Regions from separate parts of the Homo sapiens genome. Here region 2 is linked to region 1. Evidence: fine-mapped expression QTL. Tissue or cell type: whole blood. Region 1 holds a variant in brackets; the other region holds the start of a gene. All regions are shown on one strand. Distances are from middle to middle.

Evidence for each region. PIP is the estimated chance that this variant, and not a neighbour inherited with it, causes the effect.
Region 2: it holds the start of TSPAN17, and the variant in region 1 is fine-mapped to the expression of TSPAN17 in whole blood (INTERVAL, PIP above 0.99).

What each region holds. Positions count from the first base shown.
Region 1 is chr5:176,860,667-176,868,744 of GRCh38, forward strand. It overlaps UNC5A (unc-5 netrin receptor A), which reads left to right. Exons shown (of 15, transcript NM_133369.3): 2 at 1,958-2,179; 3 at 7,464-7,607; 4 at 7,895-7,998. Among named protein-coding and RNA genes, the nearest start is that of HK3, 35 kb to the right of the region's middle. RefSeq lists an enhancer at 7,997-8,078. The variant G/A (reference allele first, on the strand shown) is at 3,783.
Region 2 is chr5:176,644,480-176,649,479 of GRCh38, forward strand. TSPAN17 (tetraspanin 17) reads left to right here and starts at 3,005. Exons shown (of 9, transcript NM_130465.5): 1 at 3,005-3,223. The coding sequence starts at 3,137. It overlaps EIF4E1B (eukaryotic translation initiation factor 4E family member 1B), which reads left to right. Exons shown (of 9, transcript NM_001099408.2): 7 at 651-764; 8 at 898-1,037; 9 at 1,387-2,165. The coding sequence ends at 1,501. RefSeq lists enhancers at 1-246, 828-1,338, 1,609-1,903, 4,265-5,000 and a silencer at 2,577-3,236.

The DNA of each region.
Region 1 (8,078 bases):
TGCATTCCGCCACTTCCTGAGCCTACGACAGACCCCAGCAGAGGTGGTTCAGGGTGGGGTGGGTCTGGGTCTGATGACCTTCATTTTCACGACATGTGAACTGCAAGTGTGACCCCGCTTATGAATGCGGGCTTGGTGTCCATAACAGAGCTGCGGAACATGCGGGGGGCAGTTGCCAGTGGGAGGGCACACAAGGGAAAAAGCCAAGCTGGGGAGAGGCCGGAGTCTGGCAGGTGGGCAGGAGGCAGGCAGGGAGGCCAGAGAGTGAGAGGAGGGGCAGGCGCCCAGGGAGGGCCGGCGACCCAGCAGCGGACAAACTGTCCGGCTATGTCCCAAATGCCCTCCACACCCATCTGCCCCTGAGCTCACAAAGACACAGCTGTTGCACCCCTCAGCTCAGCCAGCCTCCCTCTGCCATCCCTAAGGCACCTGCCAGCTCTGTGCCTCAGTTTCCTTGTTGGCTCTCACCCCCTATGAGATTGCTGTGAGGATGACCGAGCTGAGGGGGTGCAGCCCTTTGCTGTGGAACACGCAGAACCGTGGGGGTACCAACAGCAGCCTACGCTCCCTGAGCACTGTGCTGAGTGCCTCACGCCTGTTTCATTTCATCCTCACAACAGCCTTAAGAACTGGGCACCACGCCCCATTTTGCAGGTGAGGAAACAGGTTCAGGATGGGGTGGATGGACCTGCCTGAAGTTGCAGAGGCCCCTGAACCCTCGGTCCGAGCCTGCCCTCCAGGGCGCCTGCAGGAGCTGGTGCACACACCTCCTGCCGTGAAACCAGGGTCCTGGTGAAGGGCGGACTCCCACCCTGGGGAGAGGGTCCCTGCGCAAGCAGGAGCGAAAGGGGCAGTGGGCCAGGCGTATGTGCCCCTCGGTGGGTAGGGTGGGCCCAGGCCTCCCAGTCTGAAGCCCTGGGTGGGTTTTGGATCACCCGTGGGGAGGGTGGAGGAGCCCAGAGGCCATCCATGTGAGGGGCCTGTGGACATCCCCACAGGCAGCTGTCATCTCCATCTCACAGATAGCAAGCCACTCGCTCCCCAAGGTCACCACTAAGATGAGCAGAATAGATGGTCTGGAAACCCAGGGTTTCCCTCTATGCCCAGGGGCTGCAATTGTGAATGCGCATTGGTGGGGGGATCACTGCAGCCCCAGGGAGGCTGAGGACCTGTTCAAAGGGCAGCTGGGGGTTGTGGGAGCTGAGGGTGACCCCCACCCCATCCTCTCAGGGGACCTGCTGGTTGGGCAGGGATCAGACTACTCTGGGGGTTTTACCTCTGCCAGTGCCTCCAAGCCAATTACCTGTGTAATTAGCAACAAATGACTTGTGGGATGGTTGTGGTTTTCAGTTAAAATTAGAAGGAAACCCACATATTCAGGTCTCCTTGAAGGAGGTGGCCCAGGTATCTCAGATTCCCAGACAGACTCCCGGCTCTCGCCTTGCCCGTGCCCACCCCGCATGTTATTTCTGAGCACCTACTATGTGCAGGGCCAGGGATGGGGCCAACCAGGAAGCAGGGCCCCAGAGGCGGCCACTGGCCAGGGCTGCTCCCTCCCTCGCCCCAGGCAGCTCACCTGCCTGGCCAGGGACCTTCTCACCTTGGCCAGCCTTGCCCTGGACCTCCCGGGCAGGGGCCTGCCTGGCCAGATCCCTGGACTTCTAGGAAGGCAGTCGCCAGGCCACCTCGGTGCTGGGACTCCGCCCAGGTCTCATTTCACCTCACCACGGTCTTCAGGATGGCATGGGCTGCTCCTTCCCTGCTTGTACAGAGGAGGACATGGAGGCCCGGGTGGGGGATGGTCATTGGCCTGAGATTGCCCAGCTGGGACATGGCAGAGCCTGGACTCACTCTCCTCCCATCTGCCCCAACCCACGGTGGAATCGTTTGCTGAGCCGCTGCCTCTACCCTGCCCAGTCTGGCCCCTGGCTCACCTTCCCCCTCTGCCCTGCCGCAGGTGCCCAGCAGAGTGCCACCGTGGCCAACCCAGTGCCTGGTGCCAACCCGGACCTGCTTCCCCACTTCCTGGTGGAGCCCGAGGATGTGTACATCGTCAAGAACAAGCCAGTGCTGCTTGTGTGCAAGGCCGTGCCCGCCACGCAGATCTTCTTCAAGTGCAACGGGGAGTGGGTGCGCCAGGTGGACCACGTGATCGAGCGCAGCACAGACGGGAGCAGTGGTGAGCCGCATGGGGCGCCAGGCAGGGCCAATCCGGGGGAGGCGAGTTTCGGCCCCCCCAGAGGAGCCTGCAGCTGCCCCCAGGATTCCCCACCTGGGACCCCGGAGGCCTTCCCCAGAGGCCACAACCCTCAGCAGTTTGGGGAGAAGGAGGGGGAGAGAGGGGGTCCCTGATGACCAAGGAGCTCCCAGACCTCACATTCAGTGATTGTTTTCTTTGTGCGTCGGTTCATTCGATCAGTCAGGCATTCACTCACACCTGTGAGCACCCACTCCCGTGCTGGGGACAGCCCGCCACCCTCGGAGCCCAAGTTCCCACAGAGAGGCAGACAGCGGGGTGACCTCTCAGCAGGGAGAGAGGCCCCTCAGGGGAGGTGATGTGTTAACTGAGAGAGGCATAAGAACCGGTTAGGGAGTGCAGAAGGGGGAAGTGCATCCCAGGCAGGGGACACAGCCCAGGAAAGCCTGGAGGCAGACGCCGGCATGCCGGTGGTGGGGTCAGCAGTGAGGGTGAGGGTGTGCAGGGGACCAAACTGATGCCACTGTCTTAGGGGATCTCAAGCTGCAGAGCGACATGGCCAGAGCTATATGTGATTCAGGGGCCAGAGTTGGGGCTGATGGAAGCAGCAGGTCTGGAGACACTGAGCAGAGGGGGCCAGCCAGACTCAGCTGGGGGCACAGAGAGAGAGGTTCTAGGGGCAGCGAGCAGACCCAGGAAGCACCTCTTCCATGAGACACCACATTCCCCACCCCCAGCCCTGGCCTTAAGTGGCACTGGGGACGTGGGCAGACAGCCCTTGTCTGGGTTCCGCAACTCCCCCAGAAAGGACTGGCAGAGAGAGAGGCAGGAGCAAACAACAGCTTCTCCTCCTCCCCCTCCTCCCCCTTTTCCCCCTCCCTCTCCTCCTCCCTCCCCTCCTCCCCCTCCCCTCCTCCTTCTTTACCCCCTTCTTCCCTCCTTCCCCTCCTCCCCCTCCTCCTCCTCCCCCTCCTCCTCCCCTCCCCCACTCCTCTCCTACCTTTCCTCCTCCTCCTCACTCATTAGAGCCTGTTTCAGTTTCCTCTCCCTTGGTGCTTTGTGGAGCACCCCACGCATAATGACACCTCAGGGGTAGTCCTGAGCCCCCTCCCACCAAGGCCTCAGCCATCCTGAGACACAGCACACATACCCTGTCGAGGCACAGCCCGTGCGGGACACACAGGCCATTGCCGTGAGGCTCAAGCCACAGTGCAGCTGGGACAAGCAGGTGTCACCCAGGACTCCCACTGATGCCAAGGGCAGGCCGGGGACCTTGGGCCTAGAGAGGTGGCCCAGGAAGGATTCCCAGCGGAGGAGGAACATCCAAGCTCAGGTCTCAAAACCACCTGGAAAGGGCATCTCCCAGGCCTGTAGAATGGAAGGTGCAGAGGCGCAGAACAGCCTTGGGTGGCTCGGGTATGGAGCGAGAGCGAACCCCGGGGCAGGCAGCAGTGGCCAGGAGACTGCGCTAAGGGGCCCCTGGAGGCTGAGACACCAGAGCGGGCTGCGGTCGCACTTGCACTGTAGGAAGACCGTGCTGGGCACAGGGAGACTGGAGGAGGGCAAGGCCCCTGCCAGGGAGAAC[G/A]GTTTGGAAGCTCTGGCAGTGATCTGAGGTGAGCTGAAGAGCCCTGGATTTAGGCAGTGCCATTTAGCCCCAGAACCAGCTTGTCATTTTACGGTTGAGACTGAGGCCTTGGCTCTTACTCATCCAGAGCCCTGCCGGGGCTCCAACCAGCCCTTCTCGTCTGCAGCAGTCACACACCACCCCTCCGTGAGGGTCAGCAGGGACTGCCTCCCTCCCCCAAGTGTCGTCTCAGTGCCTTGGCCTGACTGCAGCTTCTCACCTGCGGTCTTCAGGTGTTCGCTGAGCACCTGCTCTGTGCCATGCCTTGGGTTAGGTACTAGGAGTTATGCTCTCAGGGCAGTGATCCAGCTCTACCTCCTACCCTCAGAGGGAGATAGAGAGGGTTGGCGGCCAATGTAGCCCAACAGAACCCTGGGCACCAACACCTCCCAGGACCAGAGCCTCTCCCGGCCCCAGCGGAGGTGCCAGAGGCCTCCCTGCCCAGCAGCAGGGCCCACCTTGTCTTGCTGGGAGGGTCTGCAGGAGAACCGCAGGCAAGTCCCTCCCCTCCCTGGGCTCAGTTTCTTCATCTGTAAAATGGGGGTGAGGAGACCTCCCCTCCATCCTGCCCCTTGCAGATTGGTCGGGGGAAGCCATGAAATCTCACGTGCCCAGTCAGGACCCAGCACGGGGCCTTTCCTTTCTCCCCACCCCACACCCGGGGCCCAGCGTCCCTTCAGCATAAGTTCTCCCACTGCTGTGGCAGGTCCCCCAGGGAAAGCACAGCCAGAGAGCTGCTCTCCTGCAGCCTGGAAGCTCCAGTCCAGCCCCCTGCTGCTCCCAGCACCCCCTTCCGGGCTCCCCCGCACACCCCTCTGTCTGAAACACCCCTGCCATTATGAGGGCTCAGATCCATGGACTGGCAGGAACCCAGACCCTTGCCTGAATGAGCAGTCGCAGGCCCGGGCCGGCACACACACCGGGAGCCCCTGGCCCACACTCCCCAGCCGGCTCCTGTGGCCCTGTTCTCTTCCTGCCGGGCAGAGAAGCAGAGCTTGGGACACGTCCCACCCGTAACCGCCAGGGTCCTCTTCTGCCCCGAGCATCCGACTCCAGCCTCCCATGGCCGGAACATCTGAACGTTCATTGATCTCATCGATTTCTCAACCCAAAGCCATCGAGTGCTTTGAGGTGAAGAAAAAGGCTTTCCTTACCCACGGCAGATACCACGGCAGTGGCGCCACGCCGCCAAAGACCAAAGACCCCAAACCAGAAACGTTCTGTGGTCAGACAGGTATGGCAGGGCTCGGAGGCCCACCCAGCTCTGCAGCCCACTCATTCATGTGTGGGGCTGGAGGTGGCCGGATGGACACCCAGGAGAGCACCTACTTCCCTCTCGTTTGCCCTCATTCCTCACCCAGAAGGCCAGGGGGCAGGGACCAAGGCCTGAAGTGCTGGAACCCAAACCTGCTAACACTAAAAAAAAGCCTGAAATTTGCAAAACCAAGCACTGGAGTCCGGTCTGGGAGTATAACTTATTTTGTGTTAAACAAACTGATTGGTTATTAGATTGTTTAGAAGCAGATTGCTGAGAAGGTGAGAACCGAAGTGCCAGCTTGGCCTCAGAGCCCCAGCTAGAAACCCTGGGCAGCCCAGGTTCACACACACACCCGCCCAGGCCCACTGGCCCGGGGTCCCTCCCCAGGGCTGGCACCTGCTCACACTTATGGGCAGGTACAGACATAGCTGTACCCAGACACTGCTCCCAGGAACCAGGCTGCCTGATGATCCACAAGAGGAGAGCGCACAGCCCCTCACATCAAAGATGGGGTAGGGCCGGGTCTGCAGCCCCCGCCTCAGGCACTGCCCTCCAGGAGCTTGTGGGGCTGAAGGGCACCCCTCACCAAGGCACTGCGTGGAGCTGGCACATTGAGGACACACTTGGCCCTCACTCATGCAAGTGAGAGGGAGGAGAGGAGGTGGCAGGACAGAAGGGGAGGGAAGGCAAAGGGAGAAGAAAAGGGAGCGCTTAAAGGTAGTGCTGTTCTCCCAAGCTGAGCCGCCTGGGCCATGGGTGAGGCTCCTGAAGGAGGGCCGGGCTCCCCACAGCACCACGGGGGATGGAGGAACCATTAACAGACTTGTCCACCCAAGGGAGAAAAAGTACCCAGTTCAGAATGTTCTGGAGGTCTCCCACCCCTAACCCCCAAGGCAGAGAGGATGAAGGGAGTGGAGGGCCCCTCCCCAGATCTCCTTATCAGATGCCCTAAGTCACATTGAAAGATAGCTGGTGCCCAAGGCCCCTCTCCTATACAAGGACCCTGTGAGCCACCCCCTCGTTCTCAGCCTGCCCACCCCACCCCCTGAGAGTGTCCACACTGGGTGTCTTAGAGAACGGGGCAGGTGGTGCCCAGAACGGAGGGAAGCGGCCCAGCTACCATGATCTCACCAGAGGTGACAGCTCTGCCATCTCCTATGATAGCTGGCCGGCGACAGGGACAAAGTGATAGAAAAATCTGGACACCCAGTGTGAGAGCCCAGAGGCTTGTGAGGAGGGGTCTGGGAAGCAGTCGGAGAAAGTCATGTTAGAGAAATTAAGAGGGAAACAGCCTCCCAGCCTGCCGGCTCAGCTGGGCGGCCGCTCTTCCCGCAATGCAGCCCTAATTGAATTTCGCTGTTAACAATGGAAACACATTGGCTGCCGGCCTCTCTCTCCCTTTCTGATAAGCCAATGACCCGAGGGAAATTGGGGTCAGGAGGAGGAGAAATTGGAAGCAAACAGTCTTTTCTCACTGCTGGGGATGCTGGTTTTGGCTACAGACGGGGCAGGAGGAGGGTTGCTGCCCCCGCTCCTGAGTTGTCAGAGGGTCCTCAGCCTGCCTCAGGCCAGATATGGCAGAAGGTGGGGGGCTGAGTCCAGCCTGGAGCGGAGTCCCCCCAGCTCACCCTAGTTAGGCAGAGCGGGTCCTAGACCCCCAGCTCCCCCTCTGCTGGCTGCTCTCTCACCCTCTTCCAAAGTTTCTCCCTAGTGCATAGGCGCCCCAGCTCACCCTTCGGATGCAGACAGTCCCGGGTCCCCATGGCAAGTCACTTCCCTCTGCATTTCTGTCCAAGGGAGTGGATTAAGACGACATCCCCATCCCGGCACGTGGGAAACCCTAAGTCCCAGGGCGCTAGCATCATACTACATAATCACTGCAATTATATTGTTAATGACTGTTATTATATTATCACGTCAGGATCTATCTGCTAGCCCCCGAGGGAGGGGGCCAGATCCTTCCTCACCTCTTTTACCCACAGAGGTGCAGAGCTCAGCCTGTCTGCCCCACCCCTTCTGCCTGGAGTCTTTGGAGGTCAGACCCTCTGGCCCAAAGCTCTACGGCAGCCCCTTTATGGACATTTCTGTAAGTGACTCCGGGGAGTCAGGCCTCAGGTAACAAAGTATAATGAATGGAAGGTCTACCCTGCCTGCCCGGGGCCTTCAGGAGATAGAAATCAAGCGGCCCTTGGGCCCCCTGGAGTTTCCTCCAGGCTGGAGGTTGCCTTAAAACTTAAAATATAATAATAATAAAATTTAAAAAAAAAAAAACAAAGTCCACTCCCTTGCCAGTCAGCGAGAGTGGCTGAGGGTGGCGCAGGAACCCACACACAGAAGCTCAGGGTGGCCCTGGGGCTCTGACTACCTGCCCCTCCCGCCCCCAGGGCTGCCCACCATGGAGGTCCGCATTAATGTCTCAAGGCAGCAGGTCGAGAAGGTGTTCGGGCTGGAGGAATACTGGTGCCAGTGCGTGGCATGGAGCTCCTCGGGCACCACCAAGAGTCAGAAGGCCTACATCCGCATAGCCTGTGAGTCTAGGGCTGGGCCCTGGGGGAGGGCGCACGGCGGGAGGGTGTCACCAGGAGAGGGGACAGTAGGCTTCCTGGAAGAGGCGGTCCGGTCAGAAAACCTCACAGCCCTGCCTGGATGAGTGGATAAAGTGCCTGTGGACACGGCCCAGCCACCCCATGGCCCCCTGGCCACCTGGCACTTCCTCTGCCATGTGCCACGGCCCCTGCAGGACAAGGGACACAGCCAGCCAGGCTGAGCCTGTGCGAGGCCCTCAGACAGGAGGACACTCTCATTCCTCTTCTAGATTTGCGCAAGAACTTCGAGCAGGAGCCGCTGGCCAAGGAGGTGTCCCTGGAGCAGGGCATCGTGCTGCCCTGCCGTCCACCGGAGGGCATCCCTCCAGCCGAGGTGAGGGCTCCTCTAGTGCCCACGTCTGGACCTGGGCTCCTGCCTGGTCACCCTGGCAGGGGCCACTCTGGGCAGGGCCA
Region 2 (5,000 bases), 220 kb before region 1:
GGGGTTGATCCCTCCCGGACTCCACTGCGTTAATCCCTCAGAGGGGTGGGGGTGGGGAGCTACGGGCCACCTCTCAGCAGAGTTGTGGTTTCTGACTGGAGGAAATGCTCTACAGGAGCCCGGACAGAGTAGGTCAGGCCCAAGCCGCACCTTGGAGGACCTTAAGAGGCGGGAAGAGGGAGAGGGAGAGATTTCTGACCTGGCTCCTTAACTAGGGAAGGGCATCAGAATTGCTTGAGGACACTCATTGATGCCACACCCATCCCTGGAGGGCTGACATTGTGTTTAGAGATCTCCCCAGTGACTTCTGCCCTGCCTGGGAACCATGCAGCCAAGCCTGGGATGTCCCCCTTGCCTGCATTGGGGTCTGCCCCTGAGGCTTCCTTAATCCACCCCGATTTGAATGCTTGTCTTAAGGAACTCAGTAAAAGAGACATGCACATATACAAGGCTATACAAGGTGACCAGTGCTGTCTGTCGGGGGGAGCTGAGTGGCTGGGGGTGGAACCTGCTTGCACTGAGGGAAGGGAGGATAAGAGAATCTGGCCTACTTAGGGCCTCAGCAGAGAGCGGATAAGGCCGGGATGGTGGGTGGGTCCCCATTTCCCTTTGAACACAGGGAGGCAGTTGACTTGCCATCTGCCTTGCAGGATGGCATCCAGCCCATGTGGGAGGACAGCAGGAATAAACGGGGTGGCCGCTGGCTGGTCAGCCTGGCCAAGCAGCAGCGCCACATTGAGCTGGACCGGCTGTGGCTGGAGACGGTGAGTTGGAGGAGGAGGGTCCTCAGGGGAAGAGACGGGCTGTGTGGGTCTCATGGTGGCAGTGGTCTCAAGGATGGCAGGCCAGTCCCTATGTCCCAGCCGGTGATCTCACAACCCCCTACTTCGGGTCCAGCTGCTGTGTCTGATCGGGGAGAGCTTTGAGGAACACAGCAGAGAGGTATGTGGGGCCGTCGTCAACATCCGCACCAAGGGGGACAAGATCGCTGTGTGGACGAGGGAGGCGGAAAACCAGGCGGGCGTGCTGCACGTTGGGTGAGGAGGGTCTCTGGCACAGGGTGGGGACTTGGGTCTCTGCTAGAGGGAAGGTGGGTGGAGGGGGCTTGGCCTGCATGGGAGACCTCTGAAAGTCTCCATAGCCTCCCTCCCTTCTGCCTTGCCCACCTGTATGGAAGGTCTGGCGTTCAGATTTCTAACTTTCTCTTACGGCAGTGCAGCTCTCCTTTTGCATTAAGGGGGTCATATTTTGGGTTTCCACATGGGTAAGACACAACAGGTGTGGCTGTGGCCAGAATGAGGGTAGGAGTCTGGTGGCCTAAGTTATCTCTAGGACCCTCTGATGACTACCTGTGTCTCTTTTCCTCTGTGTCCCCCGCACCTGCAGGCGTGTATACAAAGAGCGCCTGGGCCTCTCCCCAAAGACCATCATTGGGTACCAGGCCCATGCAGACACAGCCACCAAGAGCAACTCCCTAGCCAAGAACAAGTTTGTGGTGTGAGGGGGGCCTTGGCACCCCTCCTATGTAATGGGACAGCCGCCACTGAGCCTCATTACTTTGGGGGATGGGGCGGGACTGGGGATCAGACAGCCTAGTTCTTACCTGTCCTCAAGTGAACAGGAATGCAAACACTCTTTAACATGAGTTGGGGCCTGAGCCTTAGGGGCTAGATGGGGGTAGTGGTGGCAGTCTGAGGACCTAGCTTGTCCTGGGGCCACAGGACAGCAGCAGGGTGGAAAAAACTCCTGAGGGTGGGGTGAGTCATGGCGGGGAAGGAGGGCTCTATGGTAGGCGGAGAAACCCATAGTCCAGCGTTTACTGTTTCCACCCAGGAAGGAGGTGAGGTGGCCTGAGAGACAGACTCTTCCATGGGTGGTGGGCTCAAGGGCACAGACATTCTGGAGGGTGAACGCCATCATTTGTACAGAGGGATACGTGGGTTGCTGAGGACTGAGAGAGCCTTGCAAGGCCGCTCCCCTTCTCCCCAGCTGTGACCAGGGCTGTCTGGGCCTTGCCTGCCTCAGGGCCAGACTGAAGTGGAGGTGGAGGGATGCTGGGCTAGGCCTCACCAAGGTTCTGGTAGAAGTGGTGGAAGTGGATAAACTTGATAATAAAAGCTTAAGCATCTTTCTGTTCCTGTTTTAAATAAATACTTCTGAACAAAGTTGGAATTATTTTTAAGAGGGCTTCAAACTGGAGTAAGATTCAGGTTCCCCCAAACTTTGATCTGCCTCTGTCCTGTCTTACAGGGGCTCATGTGAGATCACTGGGTACCAAGGAGCCTGACCGGGACCCTGGCCAGTATGGAGGACAGGGGGTGTGGCTGGGGAAACTCAGCCACCAAGGGGGCTTGAGCCAGGTTCCGGGGGGCATATGCCCCTGGCAGGGCGCAGCCGGCGTGGCACCAAGGCCCAGGCCCTCGTTTGGCCTGAGTTTGAGTCAGGATAAGTAGAGCTGGATTTCCGCTGGGTGAAGGTGAGCCTGATGCGACTCCACAATGACAAAACGTCCTGCACGTGTTAAAAACTCAATCCGGACCAGCTTCCCCATTCGCCTGCCAGAGCAGCAGTTAACCTTCCCCTGGGATGGGCTCCAACAGCAGGCTGGGGATTGGGATGGCGCTGGTACCCAGCAGGGGAAGCAAGGCTTCTACACCCCGGCGGCCTCCGGCGCCATCAGCCGGCGTCCCGGGCGGGTCTGCAGGACGCTGGGAAACGCGGCGGCGGCCTGCGCGGGGGCGGGGCCTGGCCGAAGGCGGGGCTGCGAGGAGGTCCGAATCAGGCTGTGGGGGCGGAGCTCGGGAAGCGGAGCCAGGTCCAGAGGCGGGGCTCAGGCGGGACTGAGTTGATCTATGGGGGCGGAGCCAGGTCAGGAGGCGGGACTCCAAAGGGACTGAGGGCTGTGGGGGCGGGGCCCGGTCCAGAGGCGGGGACAGCAGGGCTCCGGGCAAGGAGGTCTGGATGCTGAGGGCGGTCCCTGAGGGGCGGGCGGGGCCCGACCGGCGCTCTGTGTGGCCGAGGCCATGAAGCCGCAGCCGCCCGGCTAGGCCCCGGGCGGCTCTAGCCCAGGGCGGCCCGCGGGGCGCTGGGCCTGGCTCCCGGCTCCGGTTTCCGGGCCGGCGGGTGGCCGCTCACCATGCCCGGCAAGCACCAGCATTTCCAGGAACCTGAGGTCGGCTGCTGCGGGAAATACTTCCTGTTTGGCTTCAACATTGTCTTCTGGGTGAGCGCGGGGTCTGCGCCTTGCCCTGTGCTGGGGGGTGGTGGGAGAGGGAGATTCAGTCTTTTGCTGGGGGAGACCACTCCCTGCCCCAAGAGTTTGGAGCTCGGGACCATCCCCCCACTTCTGCCACACCCACGCCCACTTCCAGGACCACCCGAGGTAGCTACAGAGGCCCGGATTGCTGGGGGCGGGTCCTAGCGACAGCGTGGGGTCGGGGTTGGGGTAGGGAGTCTCCCTAAATAATCCCGAGGCCTGGTGGAGAAAGGGAAGGTGTTTCCTTGAAGACCCCAGGGGCGTGCTAGGTGCAGGTTGCCCCCTCTCGCCCAGCCCTCCTTCCTACCCTGGGATGTGGGATGCGTGCCAAGCCCCACCCCTGGTTTAGCCGGTAAGGAGATTCTGGCGTGAAGGGAGCCGCCAGGCCCCTTCCCCGGCCTCCTTTCCCTTCCAGTAGTACCTGGGTCAGGTGCCTCACCTTAGGCTCCTGCAGAGTGGGGTGGGTCACAGTCCTCTGCCCACCCCAGTCCCGCACAAGGAGGCTGACCTGCCAGGAGGGGCAGGGAGGGACAATGGCGAGTCCTTGGCGGCTGGGAGAGGATCTCCCCGGTTGAGAGCCTGGGAGCTGGCCTTGGGGAACAGAATTCAACATTCCACAGCTGACAAGCTGAGGCTCCTGGGCGGGTCTGCCCCTACCGGGGAAGGGAGCTACTAGTGCCCCTCCCAGGGTGGCATCTGTCCCCCTGGGCCCTGCCAGGTCATTTTTCCCATCTCTCCAAAGCCGTGGCCCTCTGCAGTCTCTGCTCCTGAGGCCTTGGGTCAAGATGCCAGGCCTTTTCCCTTGTGTTCAGCAAGACTCAGTGGCACTGCCCCCCACCCACGTGTCACCGAGCTCACTGGTGTGGTGGGTGTCCTTGCACTGCAGCGCTAGGCTCTTGAGGGTGTGGGCAGTGTGTGGGAGCACTGGCAAAGAAGTCAGAAGGCCTGGCTGTAGCAGGCCTGGCTGGGACACCTTGGGCAAGTCATCTCTCCTCTCCGGGCCTCAGCTTGCCTGCCTGGGAGACGACGATAAAGAATCTGCCTGTGAGGGCTGTTAGGCAGATACAATGAGTTCAATTTGTTGTATTCTCACAACTGCCTTATTATCTGCATTTTACAGATGGGGAAACTGAAGGAATAGACACAGAGAAATTAAGTCACTTACCTAGGGTCACACAGCCAGAAAGTACAGAGCCAAGGTGACGGCTTAGTGGGCAGAGGGTGGAGGTGAGGCAGAGCTGTGAGCAGAAGTAACCTCAAATACCGAGGGGGAGCAGGCGTGAGAGACCCGGGTTTGTTGCTGGGGCGGAGCGTGGGGTGTTATGTTAAGGTGGCATGGAGAAGCGAGGGCTTCCAGTGATGGGTCTGATCTGGCTTCTGTTCTGGAGACCGCTTGCCTGGCTGCTGTGTGGAGGGTGGATGAGGGGCAGGGCCTGGAGGTTTGGAATGGGGGCAGGGCTGGGGCAAAGCTGGGATGGTGAGGTGGGAAAGGTGAGGGAGGTTGCTGGGAAAGTCAAGAGGCTGAATTGACTGGGCTGGGTCACTTGGGGGCTGGAGGGAGGATTTCAGATTTGGGTTAAGGTGGCCTAAGGGAGGCTGCTTGTGGAACAGGCACAGAGGTTTTCATGTTTAATGTCAGGCAGACCCTGGTGTTGTTCTGTTTGGAAACTGCTTGTGGTTTCCTTTTTTCTTTTTTCTTTTTTTTTTTTGAGACAGAGTTTTGCTCTTGTTGCCCAGGCTGGAG